7 linked regions of the Homo sapiens genome follow. The protein of the gene in region 2 purifies or fractionates together with the protein of the main gene of each other region. This does not show direct contact. Each region holds a gene or a part of one and is shown on either strand. Other genes may lie near its edges.

What was found.
Region 1: the proteins of CC2D1A (region 2) and EXOC3 purify together in Homo sapiens (affinity purification with mass spectrometry, with the first as the bait; one large-scale study listed by BioGRID). This does not show direct contact.
Region 3: the proteins of CC2D1A (region 2) and CLUH purify together in Homo sapiens (affinity purification with mass spectrometry, with the first as the bait; one large-scale study listed by BioGRID). This does not show direct contact.
Region 4: the proteins of CC2D1A (region 2) and MYB purify together in Homo sapiens (co-immunoprecipitation; one large-scale study listed by IntAct). This does not show direct contact.
Region 5: the proteins of CC2D1A (region 2) and PTGFRN purify together in Homo sapiens (affinity purification with mass spectrometry, with the first as the bait; one large-scale study listed by BioGRID). This does not show direct contact.
Region 6: the proteins of CC2D1A (region 2) and PDK1 purify together in Homo sapiens (affinity purification with mass spectrometry, with the first as the bait; one large-scale study listed by BioGRID). This does not show direct contact.
Region 7: the proteins of CC2D1A (region 2) and RCN2 purify together in Homo sapiens (affinity purification with mass spectrometry, with the first as the bait; one large-scale study listed by BioGRID). This does not show direct contact.

The regions. Positions count from the first base shown.
Region 1 is NC_000005.10:456,185-460,175, forward strand, and holds part of EXOC3 (exocyst complex component 3), read left to right. Parts: intron 1-704; coding exon 705-822; intron 823-1,715; coding exon 1,716-1,841; intron 1,842-3,174; coding exon 3,175-3,275; intron 3,276-3,991. UniProt on the Homo sapiens protein: Component of the exocyst complex involved in the docking of exocytic vesicles with fusion sites on the plasma membrane.
Region 2 is NC_000019.10:13,909,049-13,913,039, forward strand, and holds part of CC2D1A (coiled-coil and C2 domain-containing protein 1A), read left to right. Parts: intron 1-774; coding exon 775-910; intron 911-3,274; coding exon 3,275-3,390; intron 3,391-3,479; coding exon 3,480-3,545; intron 3,546-3,991. UniProt on the Homo sapiens protein: Transcription factor that binds specifically to the DRE (dual repressor element) and represses HTR1A gene transcription in neuronal cells. The combination of calcium and ATP specifically inactivates the binding with FRE.
Region 3 is NC_000017.11:2,694,530-2,698,520, forward strand, and holds part of CLUH (clustered mitochondria protein homolog), read right to left. Parts: coding exon 3,367-3,991; intron 2,414-3,366; coding exon 2,190-2,413; intron 2,010-2,189; coding exon 1,905-2,009; intron 1,731-1,904; coding exon 1,630-1,730; intron 998-1,629; coding exon 845-997; intron 752-844; coding exon 689-751; intron 573-688; coding exon 328-572; intron 36-327; coding exon 1-35. UniProt on the Homo sapiens protein: mRNA-binding protein involved in proper cytoplasmic distribution of mitochondria.
Region 4 is NC_000006.12:135,197,911-135,201,901, forward strand, and holds part of MYB (transcriptional activator Myb), read left to right. Parts: intron 1-997; coding exon 998-1,140; intron 1,141-1,615; exon of another isoform or gene 1,616-1,671; intron 1,672-2,174; coding exon 2,175-2,289; intron 2,290-2,379; coding exon 2,380-2,505; exon of another isoform or gene 2,506-2,647; intron 2,648-3,728; coding exon 3,729-3,839; intron 3,840-3,991. UniProt on the Homo sapiens protein: Transcriptional activator; DNA-binding protein that specifically recognize the sequence 5'-YAAC[GT]G-3'. Plays an important role in the control of proliferation and differentiation of hematopoietic progenitor cells.
Region 5 is NC_000001.11:116,954,764-116,958,754, forward strand, and holds part of PTGFRN (prostaglandin F2 receptor negative regulator precursor), read left to right. Parts: intron 1-3,991. UniProt on the Homo sapiens protein: Inhibits the binding of prostaglandin F2-alpha (PGF2-alpha) to its specific FP receptor, by decreasing the receptor number rather than the affinity constant. Functional coupling with the prostaglandin F2-alpha receptor seems to occur.
Region 6 is NC_000002.12:172,565,929-172,569,919, forward strand, and holds part of PDK1 ([Pyruvate dehydrogenase (acetyl-transferring)] kinase isozyme 1, mitochondrial isoform 2 precursor), read left to right. Parts: intron 1-927; coding exon 928-1,005; intron 1,006-1,271; coding exon of another isoform or gene 1,272-1,288; exon of another isoform or gene 1,289-2,094; intron 2,095-2,812; coding exon 2,813-2,889; intron 2,890-3,991. UniProt on the Homo sapiens protein: Kinase that plays a key role in regulation of glucose and fatty acid metabolism and homeostasis via phosphorylation of the pyruvate dehydrogenase subunits PDHA1 and PDHA2.
Region 7 is NC_000015.10:76,934,429-76,938,419, forward strand, and holds part of RCN2 (reticulocalbin-2 isoform a precursor), read left to right. Parts: intron 1-1,097; coding exon 1,098-1,294; intron 1,295-3,991.

The sequences.
Region 1 (3,991 bases), on a different chromosome or scaffold from region 2:
AAAAGGGTATAGTGTTTGCACGTAACCTGCGTACATTCTCCTTCATGCTCTAAATCATTTCTAGATTACTTATAAGACTAAATACAATGTGAATGCTATGGAAATAGTTGTTCTATATTTTTTGAAATTTTTATTATTTTTTATTGTTGTTTTTCCCAAATACTTTCAGTTTGTGTTTGGTTGAGTCAGTGGACGTGGCGCCCGTGGCTGTGGGGGCGGCTGTGCTTGTCGTTTTGACTGAGTACGTTTGTTTATTCAGCGCCTCCTGTTTGCCAGGCCCTGCCTCGGCTCTGCAGGTGCAGTGAATAGAACACACGTCTTCCCCACAGGAAAGGCTCTTCCACATTTGAGCCCCAGCACCTCATGAAGCTGGCGCAGCAGGGTGAAGCTGGGGTTGGAGGGACTCAAGTGGTCTCGGAGCCAGTGGGTGATGCCACAGAGACCCCAAAGCCCTCGGCCCCTGCCCTGCACTTTCCCCGGTTGGAGGGACTCACGCAGTCTGGGAGCCAGTGGGGTGATGCCACAGAGACCCCAAAGCCCTCGGCCCCTGCCCTGCACTTTCCCCTGAGCTGTGGGCCGGCTGTGACCAGGAAGTCTCCAGGGTGGTGGACATTCATGTGTCAAGTGAAACAGTCTCGGCACACTTGGGCATGCTCTTCTGTGTCTGTCGTGGTTTGTCACTCACATTCCTGGTTCCCCCATAGTACTGAGATGATGAGGAACGTGGAGCTGGCCCCGGAAGTGGATGTCGGCACCCTGGAGCCATTGCTTTCTCCACACGTGGTCTCTGAGCTGCTTGACACGTACATGTCCACGCTCACTGTGAGTAGGGCTGGCCTGCGTGCCACAGACCACCGTGCTGGTTATATGAGTAACTAGGGCTTGGCAGCAGGCAGGAGGCAGGGGGGAAATGCCTTAGCGTTGACTTCCTAGGATGCATTGCTCAGTTGCCCGGGCTCTGCTTCCAGGCCTTGACAGGTCAGTTTGCTAGAAGAGGAGAATGGCCCCTTCTCTGGGCCTGGATCTGAAGCTTGTCCTCTGCTGGAGACGTGAGCCTGTGCCCTACTCGGCAGGCTGGCCAGGGCCCAGAACGTCTGAACCGTGTGTGGCAGCACCTGCCAGGCTCTCGGCTCTGAGTCCCATGGTTGGGGGGGTCCGTCAAGGACCAAAGGGCGAGTCCATTTGCAGCCTGGTGACCACCAGGTGGTCTCAGAGTGAGAAGAGGAGGTCAGCAGGGTCTGCTTCTTAGACAAGGGTGCGTCCACCTAGCAAGGCAGCATTATGACCAGAAGCCGAGGTGTCCTCAGGAGCTGGGGAAGGAGCGCTGTCTTCTCTTGGGACGTGAGCTGCTGTGGTTGCTGAGTCTGGGCATGGGAACAGGCCTGACCGGACCTGGTCGGCCTCATTCTCTGTGCACCTGGGATTCAGCGGCCTTGTCCTCCAGCATGAGGTGCAGCCAAAAGGGCATCTAGTTTCTTCTCCCTCTTTATCTGTACCAAGGGTTCCAGTTAAACCCCTGCGGGCTGCTGTGGTCACTGCCTCCCATGGGGGTGGCTCCTGGGTCCCTGCTCTGGAGTCCTCATTTGAGAAAGAGGACGCTGGTGCCCTGTGTCTGGTTTGTGGAGCTTGTGCATGCAACTGACCAGGTAATTGGCATGACCCTCAGGCACCTGCTCTTCTCTCTTCTCTTCTCCATGATGCTGAACTTTCTTTAGTCAAACATCATCGCCTGGCTGCGGAAAGCGCTGGAGACAGACAAGAAAGACTGGGTCAAAGAGACAGAGCCAGAAGCCGACCAGGACGGGTACTACCAGACCACACTCCCTGCCATTGTCTTCCAGGTACCACCTGCAGGGGACTGGCACAGTTCCGTTTCCTAGGTGGATAGTGGGACCTGTAGGTTTTACAAAGTGACACAGATACCTGGGATCTTCATCCACAGAGTGTAGTAAAAATATTGAGAGCCCTGCCTGGTGCATCTAAGTCCTCTCCTCTCTCTGTCTCTTACTCTCTGGAGCTGCAGAAACCTGGGATGATACTTACCAAATAGTTTTGCCCAAGGTCACTTTACTTTTCTGACCTGGTCTTTATGGGTTTGGACTACAGCCTAATTGTATGTTATTTATGTGCGACTTTCAAATGTGAGTTTGTTTGGTCGATATCCAGGATTTGTCCTAAAAAATGGCACATGATTGAGTTTAAACAGGTGGATTTTGGGAGCGTCCATTATTTTTTTTGAGACGGAGTCTCACTCTGTTGCCCAGGCTGGAGTGCGGTAGCACAATCTTGGCTTACTGCAATCTCTACCTCCTGGGTCAAGGCGTCCATTAGCTTTTAAAGTTGCTTTCCTGTTCATTGGTTAAGGTTCTAAGTATTAGACCGACCTGCATTTTTACCACGGATTCACTTTCCAACGCCCAAGCCTCACTAGGTGTTAGAACCGGTGTGTTCTTACCACGGATTCACTTTCCAGTGTCCGACCGCCCTGTGTCCCGTTTTTCCTGCTCTTTTTTTCTTTTGGCACATCATGTGTTTTAATTTGAGTGGCATTGCTGAGGGATGGAGCCCCGTTGTGTTAGAATCCTCACTCAGGACTCTAGTTAGGCAGGAGTGAGGGCTGGCGGGTGACATTTCTCTCTGAATGATACCGTTAGTTATTGACAGGCTAGTCCAAACCCTTTCCTTTGTTTGGAAACAGATGCCGTGAGAAACTGTGAGGAGAGCTCTGTCCCCTTGCCCTTCCTCTGCCTGGGTCAGCTCCTGGCAGGGCCTGGCACACCCCAGGTCCAGATTCTTAGGAACTCTGCATCATGACAGTCATGGGGCCAGGGAGGGTGAGTCAGGTGCCTGAGGGGCGCCATCCCGGGTGGGGCCTCACTCCACACATTAAAACTCCAGTCACGTAGTGTGAGGACAGACATGGCCCCCGTGGGAGAAACCAGTTTGCCAGGAATTAAGAAATGAGTCACTTGGTACTTTCCCAGGTGAGAAAGTTGTTTTTTTTTTTTTTAAACTAACTTTGTTATTTTTCACGTGGTTTCATTTTTTTTTTCTCTGAATTTGGACTATCCTAAATGCCAGTTAGCAGATGGAGGTTTCATATAACAGCAAACCTGCACTCTTAGTATACTCCTGTAAGATTATACCAGAATTCATAAGTTCTCTGATTTTTAGATGTTTGAACAGAATCTTCAAGTTGCTGCTCAGATAAGTGAAGATTTGAAAACAAAGGTACTAGTTTTATGTCTTCAGCAGATGAATTCTTTCCTAAGCAGGTATGTCTTTCTGCCAGTGTGCTAATGTACACATTGAATGTTTTTAAAAATTAGAAGCAAAAATTTTTTGATCCTACTATGCCTGTTACTAAGAAGAAATTAAGCCGGTAGATTCCCCACGTGTCACTCCTGTGTTCTTCAAAAGCAAAGGGAGGGAGCGGAGCTTCTGGATCATCTTCCCCTTGAGTGGACCACACACCCCCTTGGGCTCCCAGAGCTGATGTGTTGTGACGTCCTTAGCGATGCGCCGGATGACACCAACTCTGTTGGAGTCAGGCTCCTCCTGTTGCCTGTTCTGAACTTCCTTGGGGTGGGGGTGGCGACTCCTGCCGCAGTGCCTACTTCGTAGTGGGGAGGGCGTCCTCGGCTGAGCCGGCCCTCCTCAGAAGGGCTCCAGGCAGCCATGACCTGGCACGCCACCCTCCCCATGAGTTGTTGATAATTTTCAAACCTATACAGATGTGGAAAAGAGTTTAAAAAACTGTGTTCACCCATCGTGCAGTCCAGAAGCCATCCCCTCCAAAGCCCCCTTGCCTAATCTGTTCTCCCCTGCCCATTCCACTCTCTCTGCTGAAGTACCTTCAGGCAAACCCCGGGCGCTGTGGCATGGTATTTGCGACCCTCTCTGAAGCCACTGCAGTGCCATCAAGTCAGAGACACATGCACGGTGACTCCGTGGGGTCATCCGATGCCAAGTCTGCGTTTGGGTTGTATCT
Region 2 (3,991 bases):
CCCGAGTAGCTGGGACCACAGGCACACAGCACAACTCCCAGCTAATTTTAAAAAGTTTTTTTTCCTGTAATCCCAGCACTTTGGGAGGCCGAGGCGGGCAGATCATGAGGTCAGGAGATCGAGACCATCCTGGCTAACAAGGTGAAACCCCGTCTCTGCTAAAAATACAAAAAAAAAATTAGCCGGGCGTGGTGGCGGGCGCCTGTAGTCCCAGCTACTCGGGATGTTGAGGCAGGAGAATGGCATGAACCCCGGAGGCGGAGGTTGCAGTGAGCTGAGACTGCACCACTGCACTCCAGCCTGGGTGACAGAGCGAGACTCTGTGTCAAAAAAAAACAAAAAACAAAAAACTTTTTTTTTTTTTGTAGAGTTGGGGGTCTCACTGTATTGCCCAGGCTGGTCTGGAACTCCCAGACACAAGCCATCCTCTTGCCTTGGCCTCCCAAAGTGCTGGGATGACAGGCGTGAGCCACTGCGCCCAGCCAGGGGCCTGCTTTTCCCACTGAACTTGGCCCAGCAGCACATCATAAGTGTGGATTCAGATCAGAGAGCTGGGTCTCTTGCCCTTTGCCCCAGGTTGAACTGTGCCAGAGGGCCTGGCCTATCTTGGAACACCTGTTCTGGGCTTGTTCCAGCCTCCTGGCACTCCCCAGGGAAATGGCTTTCCCTGGGAGACCTTGTTTCCTTCCTCCCAAGGGGACTCTCTGGCCATCATGGCTGCCTCTAGCCATGTGGTGAACCAAAGGTCTGACTGAACCCTTGCTGTTCCCCTAGCTGGGCCTGCTGGTTGACCTCTCCCCAGATGGCCTGATGATCCCTGAGGACGGGGCTAACGATGAAGAACTGGAGGCTGAGTTCTTGGCTTTGGTCGGGGGCCAGCCCCCAGCCCTGGAGAAGCTCAAAGGCAAAGGTGAGATGGTTAACACACCCTCAGAACATTTTCTGATCTCCTGCAAGTGGTTCGGGCGCAGAACTGGGGGCACTGGGTAGGTAGGGGAAAGAAGACAGAGAAGACCCCTGTTCTCCTGGAGCCAATGATCTGGGTAAGAGAGTCAAGATCGACTCTGAGGCCGGGCACGGTGGCTCACGCCTGTAATCCCAGCACTTTGGGAGGCCGAGGCAGGCAGATCATGAGGTCAGGAGATTGAGACCATCCCGGCTAACACGGTGAAACTCTGTCTCTACTAAAAATACAAAAAAAAAAAAAAAATTAGCCGGGCGTGGTGGCGGGCGCCTGTAGTCCCAGCTACTCAGGAGGCTGAGGCAGAAGAATGGCGTGAACCAGGGAGGCGGAGCTTGCAGTGAGCCGAGATCGCACCACTGCGCTACAGCCTGGGCGACAGAGCAAGACTCCGTCTCAAAAAAAAAAAAAAAAAAAAAAAGATCAAGTCTGGACCGAGACTGAGAGTTGGAATCCGAGCTCTGCCACTTACTGGTTATGTGACTTGATGAGTCACATCATGTGCTTTGGCCTCAGTTTCACCATCTGTAAAACTGGAATAATAACCATGTTATAGGAGTTAATCTGGAGTCCATAAGTATTTCACCCAGGGCCCCCTCACACACAATAAGCTCATGTCAGCCAGGCACATTGGCTCATGCATGTAATCCCAGCACTCTGGGAGGCCAAGGTGGACAGATCACTTGGGGCCAGGAGTTCGAGACCAGCCTGGCCAACATGGTGAAACCCTGTCTTTACTAAAAATACAAAAATTAGCCAAGCTTGGTGGCGAACACCTGTAATCCCAGCTACTTGGGAGGCTGAGGCATGAGAATCGCTTGAATCCAGGAGGCAGCAGTTGCAGTGGGCAGAGATTGCGCCACTGCACTCCAGCCTGGGTGACAGAGCAAGATCCTGTTTCCAAAAAACAAAAAAGAGAGAAGCTTCATTCAGGCATGAACTACTGTGCTGTTGGCTGTGAATTCAAAGTTAATGAATGAACGATATCTATTCAGGAAGGTGTCTTCAAACAGAAACACACATAGAGCAAGGTTGTGTATTGATCAGTTGATTAAAATTTTGTGACCAGAGCTGGGTGTGGTGGTGCATGCCTGTAATCCCAGCTACTCGGGAGGCTGAGGCAGGAAGATCACTTGAGGCCAAGAGTTTGAGGCTGCAGTGAGCTCTGATTGGGCCACTGCACTCCAGCCTGGGTGACAGAGCAAGATCCTGTCTCCAAAAAAGGTTATGACTGGAGATTCACAGGAACCTAAGCTTAAATTTCCCCTAGGAGCAACAGTCTTATAGTCATTAATTTAGTCTTCAAAGCAGCTTTATAGAATGTAACATAACTAATAACAAGATATTGGCAATATGCTATTCTAAGAGCTTCATTGACCTTCTCTGCTCCAACCTACCTATGAAGGAGGAACTGTTGTCATCCCCGTGTCACAGAGGGAGAAACTGAGGCTCAGAGAGGTGACATCACTTGCCGAAGTTCTCACAGAGAGAAAGTTGCAGAGCTGGGGTTTTTTTTGTTGTTGTTGTGTGTGTGTGTTTTTTTTTTTTTTTTTGGAGACAAACCCTTGCTCTGTTGCCCAGGCTGCAGTGCAGTGGCGCAATCTCAGCTCACTGCGACCTCTGCCTCCTGGGCTTAAGTGATTCTCCTGCCTCAGCCTCTTTAGCAGCGGGGATTACACGCCACCATGCCCAGCTAATTTTTTTTTTTTTTTTTTTTTTTTTTTGAGACGGAGTCTCGCTCTGTCGCCCAGGCTGGAGTACAGTGGCGCGATCTTGGCTCACCGCAAGCTCCGCCTCCTAGGTTCACGCCATTCCCCTGCCTCAGGCTCCCGAGTAGCTGGGACCACAGGCGCCCGCCAGCATGCCTGGCTAATTTTTTGTATTTGTAGTAGAGACGGGGTTTCACCGTGTTAGCCAGGATGGTCTCGATCTCCTGACCTTGTGATCCACCCGCCTCGGCCTCCCAAAGTGCTGGGGTTACAGGCGTGAGCCACTGCGCCCAGCCTAATTTTTGTATTTTTAGTAGAGACAGGGTTTCACCATGTTGGCCAGGCTGGTCTTGAACGCCTGACTTCAAGTGATCCTTCTGCCTCGGCCTCCCAAAGTGCTGGGATTATAGGCGTGAGTCACTGTGCCCGGTCTGCAGAGCTGGGTTTTGAATTCAGGTAGCCAGGCCCCAGACCTGAGGCTGAATAAGGAAGAGATGAAATGGGGAAGTCAGCGAGAAGTGGGATCACCTAGCGTGTCCAGGATGGGAAATGGGGGCTCTTGGTGTACGACCCTGGTCCACCTGGGGCATCCCCCTACCGCCAGGTCCCTTGCCGATGGAGGCCATTGAGAAGATGGCCAGCCTGTGCATGAGAGACCCGGATGAGGATGAGGAGGAGGGGACGGATGAGGACGACTTGGAGGCTGATGATGACCTGCTGGTGAGCACTGAGGGCGGGGTGGGGGCTCTGATCCGGTTGCCCCCATCCAGCAGGCCCTTATATCCTGCCCTGGCTGTGTGTCCCTGCAGGCGGAGCTAAATGAGGTCCTTGGAGAGGAGCAGAAGGCTTCAGAGACCCCACCTCCTGTGGCCCAGGTACAGTTTGGATGACTCCACTCCCTTGAACCACAACCCAACGGACAGCCCGGGGTTCAAGACCTAGCCTTTTTTATGAGATGGAGTCTTGCTGTGTCACCCAGGCTGGAGTGCAGTGGTGCCATCTCAGCTCACTACAACCTCTGCCTCCCAGGTTCAAGGGATCCTCCCACCTCAGCCTCCCCAGTAGCTGGGATTACAGGTGTGTGCCACCACGCCTGGCTAATTTTTGTATTTTTTGGTAGAGATGGTGTTTCTCTGTGTTGGCCAGGCTGGTCCTGACCTCAAGTGATCCACCTGCCTTGGCCTCCCAAAGTGTTGGGATTACAGGCGTGAGCCACCGCGCCTGGCCCACCCTTATCCTTCACAGCCATGTGACCCATATCAGGTGGGTGACATGATGCTTCTGAAACCCCATTCCCTCCACTGGGAAATGGGGACCATGA
Region 3 (3,991 bases), on a different chromosome or scaffold from region 2:
GGCCGTAGGTCTCCACAGCCTGGTCCACGGTCTCACTGAGGAGGGAGCAGGGGGCCTGAGCAGCCCAAGCACCGCCGGGCCCCCCCAACACCGCCCCACCCAGCTCCCCAACGCTGTCCAGCCCGGGCCCCCAACACTGCCCCACCCGGCCCCCGGGAGCCTCCCGGCTGCCCTCACCCTCCAGCACCCAGTGATCTCCACAGCTGCTCCCTCTTCTCTCTGACTCCCTGGCCTATGACCACAGGCCTTAGACGCCATCTGGGAGCAGGTGGTGGCCGCCTCATCTGCCCAATCCCACCCACCCCACCGCCCCTGCCCCGCACGCACCACTCGAGGTCGAAGTCAAAGTAGTTCTTGGCCTCCTGGCAGATGTTCTTCCAGAGCTCCTGGGGGGTCATGACAGCCCAGGCTGTGTTATCTGCAGCCCCCGGGGGCCGGTTTTTCCTCCTCTTATTCCGCTTCTTGGAGACCAGCTCGTCGGCGGGCAGGTGGGCCACGGGGTTTGGGTAGGAGCTCAGGAAGCAGTTCAGGAAGTGGCTGATGGCGGCTGAGAGGCCGGAGAGCTCGACTCCCTGCGAGGCAGGTTGGATCCGAGTCATGAGGGCCCTCAGCCCCACCTCAGGCTCTTTCCCGACGCCCCACACCACCCTGGGAGGCCATGGCCAGCCGCAGAGCGGACGGGTGGCACCTGTAAGTACGTCTTGAAGATGTGCTTGGCCGAGCGGGTGATGAGTTCTCCAATGCCGATTTTCTGGAAGGATTCAGAAGGGAGGTCTTGGTCAGGCCCCCGGCCTCCATCCCAGTCCCACAGCTCCCGTTCCGCCCCACCCCGGGCAGCACTCACAAAGACGTGGTCCAGCTGGTGGCGGGCCGGGCTCCGCAGCACCAGCTCCAGCACCTTGCCCAGGTAGCGCATGTTGATGCCCCGCTGGCGCATCACCTCTGCCAGCGTTGCCCCGTCCACGGGCAGGACCGCGTGCTCCATGCAGTCCTTCACCTGCGGGCTGCAGCAGCTCAGGCCCCCACCCAGCTCCTCTGCCTCCACCCAACTGAGTCCTTCTGGGGGAGCACAGCTATCCTGGGAGGCCCTGGAGAAGGACCCCGAAGGCTCCAGCTCCCAGTCAGGATGTCAGAATGTGCCCAGCCTCTGGCAGGAGCGCAGGCCAAGAACCAAGAGCCCGGTGGTGGTACAGGCCCCCTCTAACCATGTGGGAGAAGCAGAGGTGCCCGCTTGGGGGCACTACTTGACCCCCAGCCCCGTGTCCTGAGGCTTGGAGGCCACGGTGTTGGGGGAGCACCCAGCATCCTGGAACCAGACACAGAGCCTGCGGGAGGAGGAGGAGGATGGGCAGCCCCCACTGAGCTCTGGCCCCGTCCCCCAGCCATGCCACCATCCAGGGCTCAGAAGACTGGATTACCAGCTGCCAGCCCACACGGTGGGCTCAGCAGGGCCTGTGCCCTTGACCTCTGGGGGTCAGGCTCCCCATCTGTCAAACGGGGATGCCCACTCAGGGAAAGCTGAAAAAGTCACTCCTGCGAGCCTGTGTTCATGGGCCTCCAAGTCGGAGACAGATGAGGGACCAGCACCCTCCACACAAGCCCCACCCAGCCCCGCAGCCCCTCCCTCACCAAGCCAGGGATCTGGCAGGAGAGCAGGAAGGCAGCCGCGTCCTTCAGCAGCTGCTTCTGGTCCCGAACTTCATCCTGGCAGGACTCAGGGAAACGAACCCCTGGAGGAGGGAGAGCAGAGAGGCTGAGCCAGGCAGTGGCAAGACAAATGCCGCCTGGCGCTGGCGGGGGAAGCGCTCAGATGGGGGACAAACCCACCAGCCCCAAGGGCCCAGGCCCCCCAGCGAAGCTCTGGCCCTGGAGGGCTCCTGCGCTGGCCGGCCCCCACCACCTGCCTGGTGAGAAGATGTCAGGATTGAAGCGAATGTCGAAGGCGGTGCTGCTGATGGAGCCGACCGCCTTGCACGCGTTGCGGATCACCTCCCGGCTCCGAGGGTCTGCTGTGGAGACATGGCTCCATGAGACACGGGTCCCCTCTGCCACCGGTGGAGCTGGGCTGCGCCAAGCCTCGCCCCCTAGCTCCTTGCAGAGATGTCTGCCAGCCTCTCCCAGGTGGGGGTCATAAGCCACCCTGGCAGGGCCAGCCCGGGCTCTCTCCCGGCCATCTGCAGCAGCCCCACCTGTGCCGTCGTCTGCGGCGATGGTCTCTGCCAGCTCCTTCACCTTGGCCAGGCCGCTGGCGCTGCTACCCTCCTCCTCACTTCCCGCCTCCTGTCCTGGAGGATCCTCAGACTTGGACTCCAAGGAGGAAGGACCACCATTTTCCAGGGAGGAGGGGGTCTCCAGCTGGCTGGCGTTCTGCTGCATCAGCTGCAAGGCGGCCAGCTTCATAAAGAGGAGGTACCTGGAGCAGAGGAAACAGGGCAGAGCAGGAGCTGGACATCGGGGAGAGGAGCTCTGCTGGCCCACGGCTCCCGGCAGCTGGGGCTCCACACCCCGCAGGCATAGGGCACCTCCTGGCCGGTGTGCATGAGTCAACGCAGAAAAACCAAGATCTCCCAAGACAGGAAGAAAAAGGCGGCCGGGCGTGGTGGCTCACGCCTGTAATCCCAGCACTTTGAGGACGAGGCAGGCAGATCACTTGAGGTTGGGAGTTCGAGACCAGCCTGACCACCATGGAGAAACCCCGTCTCTACTAAAAATACAAAAAATTAGCTGGGCGTGGTGGTGCACGCCTGTAATACCAGCTATTCGGGAGGCTCAGACAGGAGAATCACTTGAACCCGGGAGGCAGAGGTTGCGGTGAGCCGGGATCGTGCCATTGCACTCCAGCCTAGGCGACAAGAGTGAAACTCCGTCTCAGAAAAAAAAAAAAAAAGGCAGCTGCGTTCTGGAGGGTATGGGAAAAGAGGAGCTCCCCATCCAGGTCAGGGCTCTCAACAGTGACAGGAAGCCACTGGCATTTGAGAGTTACTCATGCTGTGGGACCTCTGACATGGCCATTTCCCCATTTCCTAAGCACTAAACACCAGCGGCGGGGACCCCCGGTGCCCCACCTGCCCGCCCCAGCACGGGGACAGTCACAGCCACCCAGACTTCCAAGTGCTCCTTAAGAGAACAGTGTCCGCCACAGCCACATTACCCGCCTGGCTGCTCGCGAGTCTGCAGCCCGGGTTTCTGCGCTCGGGAGCCTGACAGCAGGGCAGGTGGGGACGGGTCTCCAATGACTGTGGCTAGACGGAGCCCTTCTTCACTCTCCAGCGCTTCTCCCTTCAAGGACCCAACCCCGGATCCACCCAGGGCGCCCGCACTCCCTGCAGCTGGCCCCGGCCCTGGTCCGGCAGGGCCGCCCCTCACCTGTGCTCCACGAAGGCGTCCACCAGCTCCTGGCGCAGGCAGCAGAGCTTGTGCCGGTGGGCGCGGGGGAAGCCGGCGCGGGCGCATTCCTCAGGCAGCTCCTCGCCAGGCACGGGCAGGAAGTTGAGGTCCGGGGGGAAGGTGCGCAGCAGGTCGAGGATGTAGTGGCGCCCGTCGTTGCCAATGATGCCCTTGCACTCGACCGAGGAGCAGAGCTCCACCTCCTCGTCACGGTCGTTGAGCACCTGGTGCCGCAGGATCTTGAGGGGCCGACTCGTGCGCTCCAGCAGCTCCAGGTACCGCGGGTGTGACACCACGGTCTTGCCGAAGTCGATGGAGCCGTAGATGACGCTCTGCTCCTGGTCCCGCTCCAGGATGCCGGGGATGATGGACTGGGCCGTGACCCGGTAGCCGCGGTAATCCACCACCACCGTGCCCAGCGTGTACAGCCCCTCCACGTCCACCGCGTTGTACGTGCGGACGCCATTCAGGTCGTTGGTGGGCGCCACGTAGGCCGCCACGTCCCCCCCGAAGTCCTTGTAGTGGTCTCGGACGTCGAAGCCCAGGCTGAAGAAGATGTTGTTCCAGATGAACATCTGCATCTTGGTCTCCTCGCTGGGGTTGA
Region 4 (3,991 bases), on a different chromosome or scaffold from region 2:
TTACTAGTGCAGTTTTTGCCAAGGAATATTTTTATTTCATACAGCTTTTTTAAGGCATGAAAATCACAATTCTTATCAGAGATTTGTGTTCCTAAATTATTTAAATAATTAAATTAATAGATAATTTGGCACTTTAAAACATTTTTCCAATTGTATCTGTTGAATTTGTTTTAAGAACAGATTTAGGTATGATATAGGTATATACATTTGGGAAACACTGAATCAAACAAAGTTACAAGTAGGTTTCTTAGCTGGGCATAGTGGCATGGGCCTGTAGTCCTAGCTACTGGGGAAGCTAAGGCAAGAGGATTGCTTAAGCACAGGAGTTCAAGTTCAGCCTGGTGAACATAGCGAGATCCCATTTCTTTAAAAACTTTCTTTTTTTTAACTGCAGGCCTTCTCAGAGTTATTAATATGCCGTTGTGCCTTGTGAATTTCCAGGAGGAGATTATGATATGTTGTGTTTCCCAAATTTATTTTACCTTGGAATTGTTTAAGGAACACCTAGTTTTTTCCCAGAACTTTAGTGTTCTGAGAGACACAGTTTATTATTCAAGAATTTTCCATATAATGTAAACCTTCTGTAATACTAATTTTGGTTCATAGATTATTAAAGAGAAAAAACAAAGTATGAAAGGAAACTATTAATTATTAACTATTATTTTCCCCAAAATCACTAAAGCCTTTTAAATGTTAATAAAGAACACATCTCATTCTCTTTAATGACAAGTGTCATTTATTGAGAGTATTTTCTCACAGTTTTGCAAGTTTTTCAGCAATGACCCTAAATTTTATTTCTTGGAAACCACACCCAAATCCTGGGTGCTCAATTGAAATAAAACAATACCCTAGTCAATATAACATGCTTGTTAGCATCTTTATTATTTAATATAGTGGGTCAGGAAAACATTCTTGTTATCTAGGTGTGATTTTTAAATTGGGGAGAATAAAGAATTACCATCTAATCTAAGTATTTTTTCTTTCTCTCCATATTTAGTTCTTAAACACTTCCAGTAACCATGAAAACTCAGACTTGGAAATGCCTTCTTTAACTTCCACCCCCCTCATTGGTCACAAATTGACTGTTACAACACCATTTCATAGAGACCAGACTGTGAAAACTCAAAAGGAAAATACTGTGTAAGTCTTTGGTTCAGGAATAAAATGATTTATCTTATTTACTTATATTTAATTAATGGAATATAGTTCCCAGATGTCTGATCCACTTGTATGTGCATAATTTTACTGACCATTTATATATAATCATGTCTATTCCCACATTGAATATATCTGTCCTGGGCATATTACAACTACCTACAGGTAGAAGATGGGAAGATAAACTAGATTCCTTTTGTAACTTACTCCAAAATTTCCTATATATGCACAAGTAGTTTTCATAAAACTTTTCCATTCGGTTTGTTTGTTCCCTCCATAAGGCCTTCTTATGAAAGCCAGATTTTCAACCTCCTTTCCTCTCTAATTGTAAGCTTCAGAATAAGAACGAGTATGGTTTCTTACCTAGTTTGTATTTTTATTTAATTTTATTTGTTTATTATTTATTTATTTTTAGTTTGTATTTTTTAATCTTATTTTTTCTTTTTGAATTTATGTGTAGATAGGACCTCTTCTGACATCCCCAGGAATATTATATGATTAGAAGCCAAGGGATGAGTAAGCAGTCATTTTTATTCAATAAAGCCTTAATCAATTCAGAGAAATGGTAGAGAAAGTGTGAATTATCAGAAACCTTGAAAAGAAATGCACTGTTATTTCGAAGTACAAAAAGTAAATTTTAAAAGTTTAACATGTTTTGTAGTATGGGCTCTGTTTTCATGAATAGGGAAACCTGATTTGTAAATGACATCAGGTCTTCTTGATGCTCATAGTCTTATACAGATCATAGGCACTACATGTGTCTTCAGAGCCATTAAGGAAAGATGTTAAATCATTTAATGCTTTTAGTCTTCGAGGTATAATATTTTGAAATATTTGAAAATATGTGATATGCATATTCTCTTTTTCTTAACGAATAACGTGATTAATCAGCACACCCCAATTCCATATCCGGAACAGAGTTTATTGTATTCAGTGGAAAAATGTTAAATGTAACAGGTAAAGCCATGTAGGGACATTTATTCTTTTGTATTGAGCCACTGCTTGTTTTCTTTTTAAAGTTTTAGAACCCCAGCTATCAAAAGGTCAATCTTAGAAAGCTCTCCAAGAACTCCTACACCATTCAAACATGCACTTGCAGCTCAAGAAATTAAATACGGTCCCCTGAAGATGCTAGTAAGTTCTAGAAAAGTTTTTGGATTTCATTGGTTTATTAGTCCCATTAGGAGTTCTCTCTGATGCAAAAATACCCACTCTTCCGTTTAGCCTCAGACACCCTCTCATCTAGTAGAAGATCTGCAGGATGTGATCAAACAGGAATCTGATGAATCTGGAATTGTTGCTGAGTTTCAAGAAAATGGACCACCCTTACTGAAGAAAATCAAACAAGAGGTAAACACGCAACCCTTTGGAAGCAACAAGCTGAGAATCCTGCCCCCTTTATTCCTTGTGTGCAGCTTGATGTGTCTGCCATTGGCACTGTGCAACACCACGACTTTTCGTGCAAGATTTTCATACAAGGTGCAGCGAAAAGGTACTGCCAGACTGTAGGCATCATCAACCTTTCCTTTGGGAAGCCAAGCCATCTCTATCTACTTCATGTTTGGACAGAAAACATACTAGAGAGTATCAAGAAAAGGGAGGGAAAGAGGTTTTTAATGTACTTTTAAACATTACTGATTATATAAAGTTGATATTTCATTTTTAGATGTGAAGAATTGGAATTTAAATTAAAATAATAGTATCTTTAATTAATTGTATTAAAAAAAGGGAGGCTGGGCGCGGTGGCTCATACCTGTAATCCCAGCACTTTGGGAGGCTGAGGTGGGCAGATCACAAGGTCAGGAGTTCGAGATCATCCTGGCTAACATGGTGAAACCCCGTATCCACTAAAAATACAAAAAAATTAGCTGGGTTTGGTGGCGGGCGCCTGTAGTCCCAGCTACTCAGGAGTCTGAAGCAGGATTATGGTGTGAACCCGGGAGGCAGATCTTGCAGTGAGCCAAGATCGTACCACTGCACTCCAGCCTGGGAGACAGCAAGACTCCGTCTCAAAAAAAATAAAAATTAAAATTAAAAAAGAGAATCTAACCTGCAAGGATCAAAGTTTTAGCTTGTTGGCAACAGCTGTTTTCCACCAGGTTAGATACAGTGCTTCTTGAATTTATTTTCATGTAAAGATAAGTATTTTTTTTTATAGCTAAAAATCTGATTTGATTATTTAGTAATGGAGAATTTTACCAGAATGTGATTAAAAACCAGTCTTTTGTCACCAAAAGATCTTTTATGTCACCAAAATAAAATCCTTGACGGATACAACACTACTAGGTGTATCATTAAAATATATTCTTAATAGAATAAACACCTAGAATCAGAACATTGGTTGAAAACGTAGGAGCTTTACAGGGGCAGTAAATTTGGAGCTAGTCACATTTCAAATTTGCCATCAGTGTTTCTTTGTTGAATCCAGAAGATAGAGCAAATTGAGCTGATAGTGTAAGTTAGCAACATAGTTTTATAAAAGTATTTGAGGGACTGGCCAGAAATATACTCCTGACTGTACATGTTTCATAGGAAGTTCTAGAAACAACAAAGCACTTTCTATATGCTTTTAGGTGGAATCTCCAACTGATAAATCAGGAAACTTCTTCTGCTCACACCACTGGGAAGGGGACAGTCTGAATACCCAACTGTTCACGCAGACCTCGCCTGTGGCAGATGCACCGGTAAGTACGTGTGCACCAGCCCCCAAGTTGTTATGTGACACTGGTGCCTCATGAAATCCTGTGTGTGGCATAGGGCTGCTGCGGTTTCAGCACTCCCTCTTTAACACATCTTATTTCTAAATGTTCTCCTGCACATGATTTTTAAAAAATGA
Region 5 (3,991 bases), on a different chromosome or scaffold from region 2:
AGTCTTCTAACTTAGCTCCTCTAACTTTTGCTTTTTGTTTGTTTTTCATTTGGAAATGTACATGAAAATAGTACCAATCTTACAAGGTTGTTATGGAGATTAATTGAAAATGCAAGGAAAGTATATAGTGTGGTGCCTGGCATATGGAAAGCCCTTGATAAATGCTCGTTGTTTAGCATTATTATTGTAAAATGGGGATAATAATACCTTCCTTACAAAATTGTCATGAGAGTAAAAGGAGGTATTTTGTATGAAAATCTCTAGATCAGTCTCCTGCACATAGTAGGCCCACAATACTTGTTTTTACAAATTAGCCAGTGATTCTGAAGGCTTTTTATTGTTTTGAAAGTTGTGACAAAGGAGTCTAATGAGCCATTATTTTTAAAGCCTTTCTTTAGGGGAGGGTCACTCTTTTGGAGTCTGTGCATAGCTTGGGAGATGGTGTGGACATGAGCAGACACCTTCCTGGCATCCAGATTAGGGAGCAGATCCCTGCTTCTCAGAACGTTAGTGATGCTGCACTTGGACTGGCCTCAGTATTCTGTGAGAGGGCTTACAGTGTGTGTTGTTGTTTGTTTTTAACTTTTAAAAATAGAAATTTACAAATATTCACAGTTGAAGAAATAACCACCAACTTCAACAATAATCAATATTTTGCTGATCTTATTTTATCTCTCTTCCCTATTCCAGACACCAGACACACACAGACACACACACACAAAAACACACACTTTTTTCTTCTAGAAGAGTATAAAGTATATCCCAGACATCATGTCATTTTACTGTTAAACACTTTAGTATGCATCTTTAATGATAAGCAGTTTTTAAACATAACCACCATTGCATTCTTAGCTGATTTCTTGATGAGATCAAGCAGAATGTAGCAGTAATCAGTGGTGAAATGCCTGTGCCCAAAATGAGCATTTTAATGCAAAATATTAAATTTAGTTCAATTCAGCCAGTATGTTAGTATTTTTTATGTACAAGGCACTGCATGCACAGCACGTACAGAGAATCAAGGTGGCAGTCCCTGGCCCTGGGAAGAGTCCTGTGGAAAGCCCATAAGACATACATACGAATAACCAAAGTTCAAGGCAGGATTCACATAAAACCCTTAGAGAGCAGGGAGCTTGGCAGGTGGTGGGATTTGTTGAATACGAAATAGGAGTGTGACATGTGAGTTCAAAGGAGGCATTCTCCGTTGAGTAGGAGAGGATACACAGAAGAGGTATGTGCATGACAGGCCTTGAAGAAGGGCACAATCTCTGCAAACCATTTTTAAAATTGTAAAACAATGTTAAAGGACAATCTCTGTCCATGCACCAAAACAAAAACGAAATCAGAACCTGCTCCTACTCCTACCATTCTGACATGGTGGAATCATATCTTCTCCAGGAGTGTAAGTCTAAAGTTGAGCTACAAGGCTGGTGGATAGCTCAAATGAACCTGCCCCTCGTAAGTTCACAAGCCAAGAATCCACTTATTTTTGTTTGCCTTTGCATTAAAACTGAGGCCTCCTTTTCTGAGGCCTAAGGTTAGTTTTAAGAGAAAATGAAGAGACCAACTGTTGAGGTCAATGAAGAGATTTTTCTTTCCTTCCAAGCTGGAATTCCTATAGCTAGATGCACACATTGTGCAAGTCCCCCGTACTCTCATTCCGCTGTGTTTGGGTATGTAGGATTCAAACAGATTGATTTCAGGGTGGAGAATGGAGTAGAATGAAAGAATCTCTTCAGTCATTATTTAAACTACTTATCGAGCAGGTGGCCCAGGTGCTGAGGCAGACAGAGCAGCAGGAAGGAAGGCGGAGCATAGGAGTAGCTAGGGAATGGTGAGAGGTGCCATCTGAGTGGAGTTGAGAAGGCAGTGGGTGCTGCGGCTGGGTGCACGCAGTGGAGGGCCTCGAATGCCAGGCTGGGGAGCATTTTCTTAACTCAGTAGGTGAGGGAAGAAGCCATGGGAGGTTTATGGAGCAGATGCCCAAGCAGTCATGTCAGTCATGTCAAGTGGCAATGGGAGGTTGTTATTATAGTCTTGGCTAGAGGGAGTGAGGGCCAGGGTGAAGGTGTTCTTCATGAGGTTTTCACTTCTATTTGCAAATATTCATAAAGTGTCTACTCTGCATCAGGCCTGAGAACAAAGAAATGGAAGAGACACTGAGGAGGTAGAATGTGCGAGACTTAGGAACCCTCAGAGTGGAGAGGTGGAAGGGAAGGGAGAGCGTTGAAGATGGCACACCTTTGACACTGAGTGACCTTGAGAATGAGTGGCGGGAATGTGGTAGCAGGAGTGGTTGAAAAGTTTGGAGGTGGGGCTGGCTGTGTTTGGAACAAGGTTTTAACTCTCTCTCTCTCTCTCTCTCTTTCTCTCTCTCTCTCGCTGGCTCGCTGTGTGTGTGTGTGTGTGTGTGTGTTTGTGTTTGTGTGTTTGCAGAGGCAGATGTGGAGTGAGGTGAATTCGGTTGTGAGCGTGCTGTAGTAAAGACGCCATGGATGCTCAGTTAGAATGCCCAGACCTCAGCTCAGGCCAGTGTTTGGGTCTGGAGGCTAAGGAAGAGCTGGGTTTTCATGTCTGGGGGAGTGAGCTTTGGGGTGTGAGCAGGCCAGGGAGTGGGAGGAGAGAGAGAGCTGCCCAGGTGATTGGCACAGGAGCTAGTTTTGACCACCTTTTCTGTGTGTTCTGTGATCTGACCACTAATAGGTCAGTCAAGTCACTCCAACATGTTTTTTTAATTGACAGATTAAAATTATATATGTTTATGGTGTACCACATGGTGTTTTGAAATATGTATACATTGTTGAATGGCTAAATCAAGCTAATTAACATATCCATTACCTCACATACCTATAATTTTTTGTGCTGAGAATGTCGAAGATCTGTTCTCTTAGCAGTTTCCAAGTATACAATACATGGTTATTAACTATAGTCACAATGTTGTACAATAGATTTCTGGAACTTATTCCTCCAGTCTAACTGAAATTTTGCGTCCTTTGCCTAGCATTCTCCCCTCTCCATCCCCCAGCCTCTGGTAATCACCACTTTACTCTCTGTTTCTATGAGCTCAGCTTTTTGACCTCCCACATGCGAGTGACATTATGTGGTATTTGTCTTTCTGTGCCTGGCTTATTTCACTTAACACTGTCCTCCAGGTTCATCTGTGTTGTCGCAAATGGCAGGATTTTGTTCTTTTTTTTTTATGGCTGAATAGTAGTCTATTGTGTATATATACCATATTTTTTTAATCCATTCATCTGTTGATGGACACGGGTTGATTCCATATCTTGGCCCTTGTGAATAATGCTGCAATGAACATCTACCATCTTTCATCATAATTTTGACAGCCTTTGAAAAGGTGCCACTCTGAAAGAATCTGCACGGGGGTGGAAGTAAACCATTAAGGATCAAAGGGTCTGTCACCTGTGAGGAGACAGAAGAGGAGTCCCCACAGGCAACTTCATGGTGTTTTGGATCACACTGGTCAGTCAGGCTGAGGCGAGGGCCTGCAGGGAGCTGTCTTCTGGGTCACATTCCCTGTGGCAGTAACTTAGTGTCATGGCAGCACTGCACTCAGCGTTCCTAAAAATCATGTGTCAGTCAGTGGAACTTAGAAAATATGAAGTTTAGAAGACAGTAGGTTTGGTTCATCTGTGAGCTAAGGATGCACTTGAAAGGTGGTAGAAGACAGGGCTCCGTTCCCATCTGCCACTTTTGAACTGTGTGGCCAAGTCACTAACTTCTTTAAAGCTCTCCCCTCAGAAATGGGAACTGTGAATAATGATCACAAATATATACACGTGTATGTGTATATGAATATGTGTGTACCTGCATACACACACACACCAGGCACCAGTCTAGGCATTTTAAGTACAGTATATTTTAACTCTTAACCCTCACAATAACATTATGAGCTAGTTACTGTCATCCCCATTTGTATGGGTGAGGCACCAGAGATCTGAGTAATCTACCCAAGGTCAATAGCAAGTAAGTGGCA
Region 6 (3,991 bases), on a different chromosome or scaffold from region 2:
TTCTGTTACCACCAATACCAGCAGTACTGCTGTGAACATCCTTAAATACACGCTCACTTTTGCTAGTATTTTAGAGGTGAGATTCCTAGAATTAAAAACATTTAAATGCATATAAAATTTTGGTATCTCCAAAAAGGTTTCAAACAATGGATAAGAGTGTTTCCTAACCAACTCTTAAGTTTTGTTACATAGATAGCAATTATTTTCTCCAGCCTGTTATTTTTCTTTTTTACATTGTTGGTGTCTTTTTAGCATATAGACTTTTACATTTTTTTTGTAGTTATATTTGTCATTCATTGTTTATGGCTATTCAGCTTTGTCATGTCACACTTAGACTTTCCCTGGGCCAGGCACAGTGGCTCATGCCTATAATCCCAGCACTTTGGAAGGCTGAAGCGGGTGGATCACCTGAGGTCAGGAGTTCGAGACCAGCCTGGCCAACATGGTGAAACCCCCTCTGTACTGAAAATACAAAAATTAGCTGGGCGTGGTGACCCATGCCTACGTAGTCCCAGCTACTTGGGAGGCTGAGGCAGGAGAATCGCTTGAACCAGGGAGGTGGAGGCTGCAGTGAGCCGAGATAGCGCCACTGCACTCCAGCCTGGTTGATCGAGACTCCGTCTCAAAGGAAAAAAAAAAAGGAAAGGCTTTCCCTGGTTGGGGGCAGTGGTTCATGCCTGTAATCCTAGCACCAAGGCAGGAGGATGGCTTGAGCCTGGGAGTTGGAGACAAACCTGAGCAATATAGGGAGACCATGTCTCTACCAAAAAAAAAAAAAAAAAAAGCAGACTTTCACCAAACTATCAAAGTATATTTTCTTCTGTAGAGAGTTCAAGACTTTGATTTGTCAATACCATTGCCATCTTAATGCGTGAAAGAGAAGTATATTTATTAAATCCTTTTTTGTTTTGTTTTGATTCACACTAGATGGCTATGAAAATGCTAGGCGTCTGTGTGATTTGTATTATATTAACTCTCCCGAACTAGAACTTGAAGAACTAAATGGTAAGCCTGATGTTGTCTTTTTCTCAATAATTAGTGCTTTGATTACTTGATAAGGGATAAGAATTTAAATGTTTTAATGGAAGATGACTTTTTATCAACTTCGTTGGATATGAAGGCTAAAGGATAGTAATCATGTAAAAAATATATCTATAAACATATGTAATTTAGTCAGATTCTTTATGAAAAGATTTGGCTTTTTGTATCACATTTTCTTTATTTTTAATTGATAACTTTGATTCTTTGCTTATTTTTTATTTTCTGTTTAGTCATAGAAAGAAAATGATACCAAGAAAGTTACATTTGACTTTTACATGCACTTCACTAATGTAAGACTTACCCTTTTTCTACTTCCTGAGTTGTAAATAATTTTCTGTTGTTGAGGACATAGACTGGGGTTATAAAAGAGGAAAGAAAGATGCTCATCTATTTGAGAATCTGTTTGTCTCTGATGGTTTTCTTTTTACCCTGATTAGTGCCTTTTGGACAAAAAGGGTTTAGATGCCTTGAAGAGGGATTGATGAGTCTCTTTTTCCTGAAAGCATGGTAGTTTGACAGAAAAAAGCATTTCCTAAGATGACACTTTAAGAAGGTGTGGGAAGAATAAAACAAAATAGGCTTTTACTAAGCTGTATTCTGGACCTTAGAGTGAGAGAGCAGTGAAGTTATGCAATTGAAAATAGCATTGCTTGGTGATTTTCTAAAGCCATATTAACTCTTTTGAGCCATGATGGTAGCATAGCATTTGGTAAATAACAATCACAGTGTACAAGTAAGTGATAGTTTGCAAACCTGAACTGCTGTGAGCAATTTCCAGATGTCCCATTTTTGTTCCCAAGGGGGAGTTTATTCAGAGGAAGGTCTGATTTATTGGTTGAATTAGAATTCTAAGATATCATGAGTCTTAATCATTTGTTCTACTAAATGTCTGTTTTATACACACCCCTATCACCACCCCCAGTGGGGCTCCTATTAAGTGTTTAAATGTAGAATTAATTACTGTCTCGAGAAATTGATGCTAGCTCATATTTTTTATTCAGCTTTATATCCATCGAAATGCCTGAAATAAAACAATATTCCACCCAGGTGAAACATTTTGAAAATGGCTTAAAGAATGTATGGGCTGGGCGCAGTGGCTCACATCTATAATCCCAGCACTTTGGGAGGCCGAGGCGGGTGGCTCACAAGGTCAGGAGTTCGAGACAAGCCTGGCCAATATGGTGAAACCCGTCTCTACTAAAAGAAAAATCAGCCAGGCGTGGTGGTTGGCGCCTGTAATCCCAGCTACTCGGGAGGCTGAGGCAGGAGAATTGCTTGAACCTGGGAAGTGGAGGTTGCAGTGAGCCAAGATCGCGCCACTGCACTCCAGTCTGGGCAACAGAGCAAGACTCCGTCTCAAAAAAAAAAAAAAAAAAAAAAAGAAGAAGAAGAATGTATGCATGCATGTGAATTGGACTGTGGAATTTAAAGATTTTAACACTTCTCTATTTGGAAAGTAAAATTCCTACCCGAAAGTTAAGCGATCTTAAAAAAGACTTTACCATCCTAGAGAAAAATGGGCGCATGGGTTGGTTCGATTGTGATGCAAGATTGTGAGAAGTGACCACAGGACTCTTGTCATCATCAGTTGTAAATATTTGTGGGTATGGGTTCAAACACTAATACATTGAAGAAATGGTGTGGCAGTTCTCCCCCAGGTAATACTGTCCTCCGTAGTTAATGTTTTCTTTTCATCACTACACAGTTTATTCTTAAAAATGCTTTAAGCACATCTCTCTGTACTTTCATATTTTTCTCTTCTGCTCTGTAGCAAAATCACCAGGACAGCCAATACAAGTGGTTTATGTACCATCCCATCTCTATCACATGGTGTTTGAACTTTTCAAGGTTTGTAAAATAGTATTACATAACCTTTACCAGTACTTTTCTGAGGTTAGGAATCTGCTCTGAAAGCCAAATATTCCACTAGGTTCTCCTATTAAGAAGTGCCATTTCACATCAGTATCATATCACATTGCTGGAGATCAGCTTTTTATCAACACAGGGAGACATCTCCATGTAGTGGTGAGCTCAGACTATGGAGTCAGAAAGACCTGGGTTTGAATCCCAATTATGGCTCTTAATATGTGTGTGACCTTGGGCAAGTCACTCAACCTCTCTGAGCCTCAGTTTCCTTTTCTGTAAAACAAGAATACTGTCCAGGATTGTTTATGACTATTGGGAATAACATACTAAGTGTCCAGTACAGTGGCAACGTATTACATATAGGTGCTCAATAGAGTTATCTTTATGTTTTTATAAAACAATATTTAGAAGAGTGATTCTCAACTTGCTACCCTCAAAGGACCAGAATTCTTTTTTTGGTCTGGCTTTTCTTGGGAGGGGGAGGTCATTTATATTGACTTACAGGGTTTCTGCTGTAATCTTTGCTCTTTACAACAAAATTTGAAAACAAATTATGCTACTAATATTGAGAGTATCTTTTTTCCCCGCCAATAATACTTGCTGGTTGACAAGAAAATGGGTGAGGAGTGAGGGGCACAGGTCCTGGTGGGTGAAAATGATTGCCCTCTATCAGAAGCTTGTAGTCTCTCTTCAGTTGTGTTTCATCAGCCAGCAGCAAACTAGAGGAAAGAGGGGGTGGCTTTCAATCTGATAATGTAAAGGAAAAGTGCACTGAAACACAGAAAAACTGACCGAATATCTTAGAACAGCAGCAGAATGTTCTTTCTTCCAAGACAGCAAAAATGTATTTAATACCTTACAAAATCTTTTTTAAAATATTTATTTTATTTTTTGTAGAGTTGAGGTCTCACTCTGTTACCCAGGCTGTCCTTGAACTCCTGGCCTCAAGCAGTCCTGCCCCAGAGTGTTGGGATTACAGGCATAAACCACTGCACCTAGCCCTAAAATCTTTTTATCCAAGTAGTTAAACAAGTAGTGATGGGCACTTCAAGCATTAACACGAATTTTTTCCTTGAAATTCCAG
Region 7 (3,991 bases), on a different chromosome or scaffold from region 2:
ACTGAGCCCAGCCAAATAGATTTTTTAAAAGTTGATTGAAAAGTGAACATTTGAATTTTAGAAACTTTCCCATGCCTTCAGGTACCAAGTTAAGACAGATAGCTGTTGCAGGAAGGGCATAAATTGCTACCCATAACTTCGTTAAAATTTACTCCAGATGTTTTAACAACATATTTAAAGGTAATATACTGAAGCAGTATTCTCAGTCACTTGAATACCTTTTCAGAATTTAGGCCATATCTACTTAACCATCTATTATTTTCTTACTATAGTTTTAATTCAACTCACATAAAATTTATTTTAAAGGAAGACTTTATGTCACCTTCATAAATAAAAAACACTGTTTTTTCTCATACATACTAAAATAAATAGCTATCAAAATATTTATGCTTCCTGAGAGATCTGTGGTAGTTAGCAAAGGTTTTCTGCAAGATTTTGGATAACATTTTTTTTAAAAGTAAAGTGCTATTTTGGCCAGTTGGTAATTCATTCAACAAATACTTACAGAGCCAGGAACTTTCCAGGCATTTGATGTACATCAGTGAACAGAACATACCCAAACTTTTATGGAGCTTACATTATATTTAGATCATATGTTATAGTATGGAAGCTCCGGCCAGGCATGGTGGCTCACGCCTGTAATCCCAGCAGTTTGGGAGGCCGAGGCAGGTGGATCACGAGGTCAGGAGTTAGAGACCAGCCTGGCCAACATGGTGAAACCCCGTCTCTACTAAAAATACAAAAAATTAGCCGGGTGTGGTGGCACATGCCTGTAGTTCCAACTACTCAGGAGGCTGAGGCAGGAGAATCGTTTGAACCGGGAGGCAGAGGTTGCAGTGAGCTGAGATCGCACCACTGCACACTCCAGCATGGGTGAAAGAGCGAGACTCCATCTCAAAAAAAAATAATTAAAAGCTTCATGAGCTCTTCTAAACAGCCTTTCCCACTTCCTACCCCATTTCTATTAATACAACTAGGCCAATTCTCAGTATTTGCAAACATCAAAGATTTTGCCTTTTCAGAGAAGGTTTGGAAATCCTTACTCTTAAGTATCAGAATTAACGTCACATGCGTTGTGTTCTGGGAAATTCTCATAGGTGAACTCAGTTCATGGATTCAGATGTCTTTTAAGCATTATGCTATGCAAGAAGCAAAACAACAGTTTGTTGAATATGATAAAAACAGTGATGATACTGTGACTTGGGATGAATATAACATTCAGATGTATGATCGTGTGATTGACTTTGATGAGAACACTGCTCTGGATGATGCAGAAGAGGAGTCCTTTAGGAAGGTGAGTTCATGTGCACAAGCTGTTTCTTTTGATCATGTCAGTTCACTTTACCTTCCTGCATGAATGAGCACATTGAGGGCCTGAGGTCATAAGCTGGATTGTCTTGTTCTCTAGGAAATCACCTGTTCCACTTCAGCAGTCATTTTGATGGTTTCCTTTCTGGCCAGATTTAGGACTCTTATTCTAAATTACCTACATGATCCTTCTATCTGTTTTTCTCGGCTGCATCATTTAATTGTCCTCATTTCCAGAGTTGCTTTTTAAATGTGTTTTGAATGAGTATCTCAATATTTTAATATCATTGAATAATCAGTTTTATCTTTATTAAGAAGGCCATTATGGCCCATTCCCATTTTTAAACACATAGTTTTATATACTCACTTAAAAAAACTGCGGTTTCCACATCTGTGGATTCAAACAACTGAGAATCGTAAGTATCCAAAAAAGTAAGTATTAAAAAAAAAAAAACTGTGTCTCTATTCAACATATACAGAACTTTTTTCTCTTGATTATTCCTTAATATAGTATAACAATGATTTATTTCTCATTTAAGTTGTAATTTATATTATAAGTAATCTAGAGATGATTTAAAGCAGAGGTCCCCAACCTTTTTGGCACCAGGGACCAGTTTCATGGAAGACAATTTTTCCACGGGACAGTGTGTGGCGGGGGGGTGGGGAATGGTTTTAGGATGAAATTGTTCCACCTCAGATCAGCAGGCATTAGGTTCTCCTAAGGAGTGCGCAACGAAGATCCCTCACATGTACAGTTCACAGTAGGGTTTGCACTCCTATGAAAATCTAATGCCACCCCTGATCTGATAGGAGGCAGAGCAGAGCTCAGACGGTAATGCCTGCCACTCACCTCTTGCTATGTGGCCCAGTTCCTAACAGGCCATGAACCAATACCCGTCCGCGACCTAGGGATTGAGGGTCCGTGATTTAAAGTATTCAGGAAGATGTGTGTAGGCTATGTGCAAATACTGCACCATTTTATATCAGGGACTTAAGCATTCTCAGATTTTGATAGGGAGGTCTTGGAACCAATTTCCCAGGAATGTGTGAGGGAGGACTGTGTAACAAATTGACCATTGTAACCATTTTAAAGTGTACAGTTGAGTAATATTAAGTACATTCATGGTGTTGTGCAACCAATCTCCCCGACTCTTTTCATCTTACAGAGTGGAGACTCTCTACCCATTAAACAATAACTCCCCATTCCCTCCTCCCACTAGCTCCTGGCAACCACTGTTCTACTTTCTGTCTCTGAATTTGGCTACTCTAGGTACCTCATCTAAGTAGAATCATACGCCGTATTTGTCTTTGTAACTGGCTTATTTTTACTTAGAATCCTCAAGATTCTTCCATTTTGTAGCATGCATCAGAATTTCCTTCCTTTTTAAGGCAAAGTAATATTCTGTTGTATGTACAGGTTGAGTATCCCTAATTCCAAAATCAAAATGCTCTTAAATATGAAACTTTTGGAGCACTGACACGACACTCAAAAGAAATGCTCATTGAAGCATCTTGGATTTGGGATTTGCAAATCTCTGTGGGATCCTGCTTTCCATTGGTTTGGGTATATACCTGGAAGTGATACTGCTAGATCATACGGTAATTCTATTTTTAATTTTTTGAGAAACCACAGTACCATTTTTCATAGTGAGTACACCCTTTAAAATTACTCCTTTTTTTTTTTTATTTTTATTTTTTGAGACAGTATCTCACTCTGTTGCCCAGGCTGAAGTGCAGTGGTATAATCTCGGCTCACTGCCTCCTGGGCTCAAGCAGTCCTCCCAGCACAGCCCCCGAAGTAGCTGGGATTTCAGGCTCAAGCCACCACGCCCATCTAATTTTTGTATTTTTTGTAGAGATGGGGTTTTACCATCTTGCCCAGGCTAGTCTCAAACTCCTGAGGTCAAGTGATCTACCCACCTCAGCCTCCCAAAGTGCTAGGATTACAGGTGTAAGCCACGACACCTGGCCCCAAATTACTCATTTTTTGAAAATTTAGTATCTGTGTGAGTTCTAATGTGTCTCATGGTTTAATTTGTTGAAATATATGCTTCTTAAGCAGAGCTGAGAAAGACTAATTTTATTTAGGAATTAGGAACTTTTTAACACTTCTAGGAAGTCTATTAAACTAAAAGTATATCAACAGAAATGACTGTGAGCTTGAGAAATTGATATATCAAATACTTTTGTATTTCAAAGCTAATTTTAAAGAATTAAAATCTTTTTTATAGGTACATGATAGTTGTATTATACATACTTACAGAGTACATGTGATATTTTGATATCACACAAACGTATATTATAATGATCAAATCAGGGTAATTAGAGGATCACCAAGAATTTTTTTAAGATAGTTTTTATGTGTAGAAAAACATAAAAATAAAATCAAACATGCTGTTGCAAACTGTCCCAAAATATTAGTCAAGGGTGCTTGGAAAATATTCAAGGCTCTTCTGTTTCTTAACTTATCCTGTTTTGGTATATACCTTTTAATTTTTGTTGTGGCCATAATTTATTGTATTAAACAATATAGTGTAACAATGATTTACTCCTCATTTAAATTGTAATTTGTCTTATAAGTAATCTAGAAATGATTTAAAATATTTGGGAAGATATGTGTAGGTTATATGCAAATGCTATGCCACTTTATATCAGGGAATTGAGTATCCTTGGGTTTTGGTAT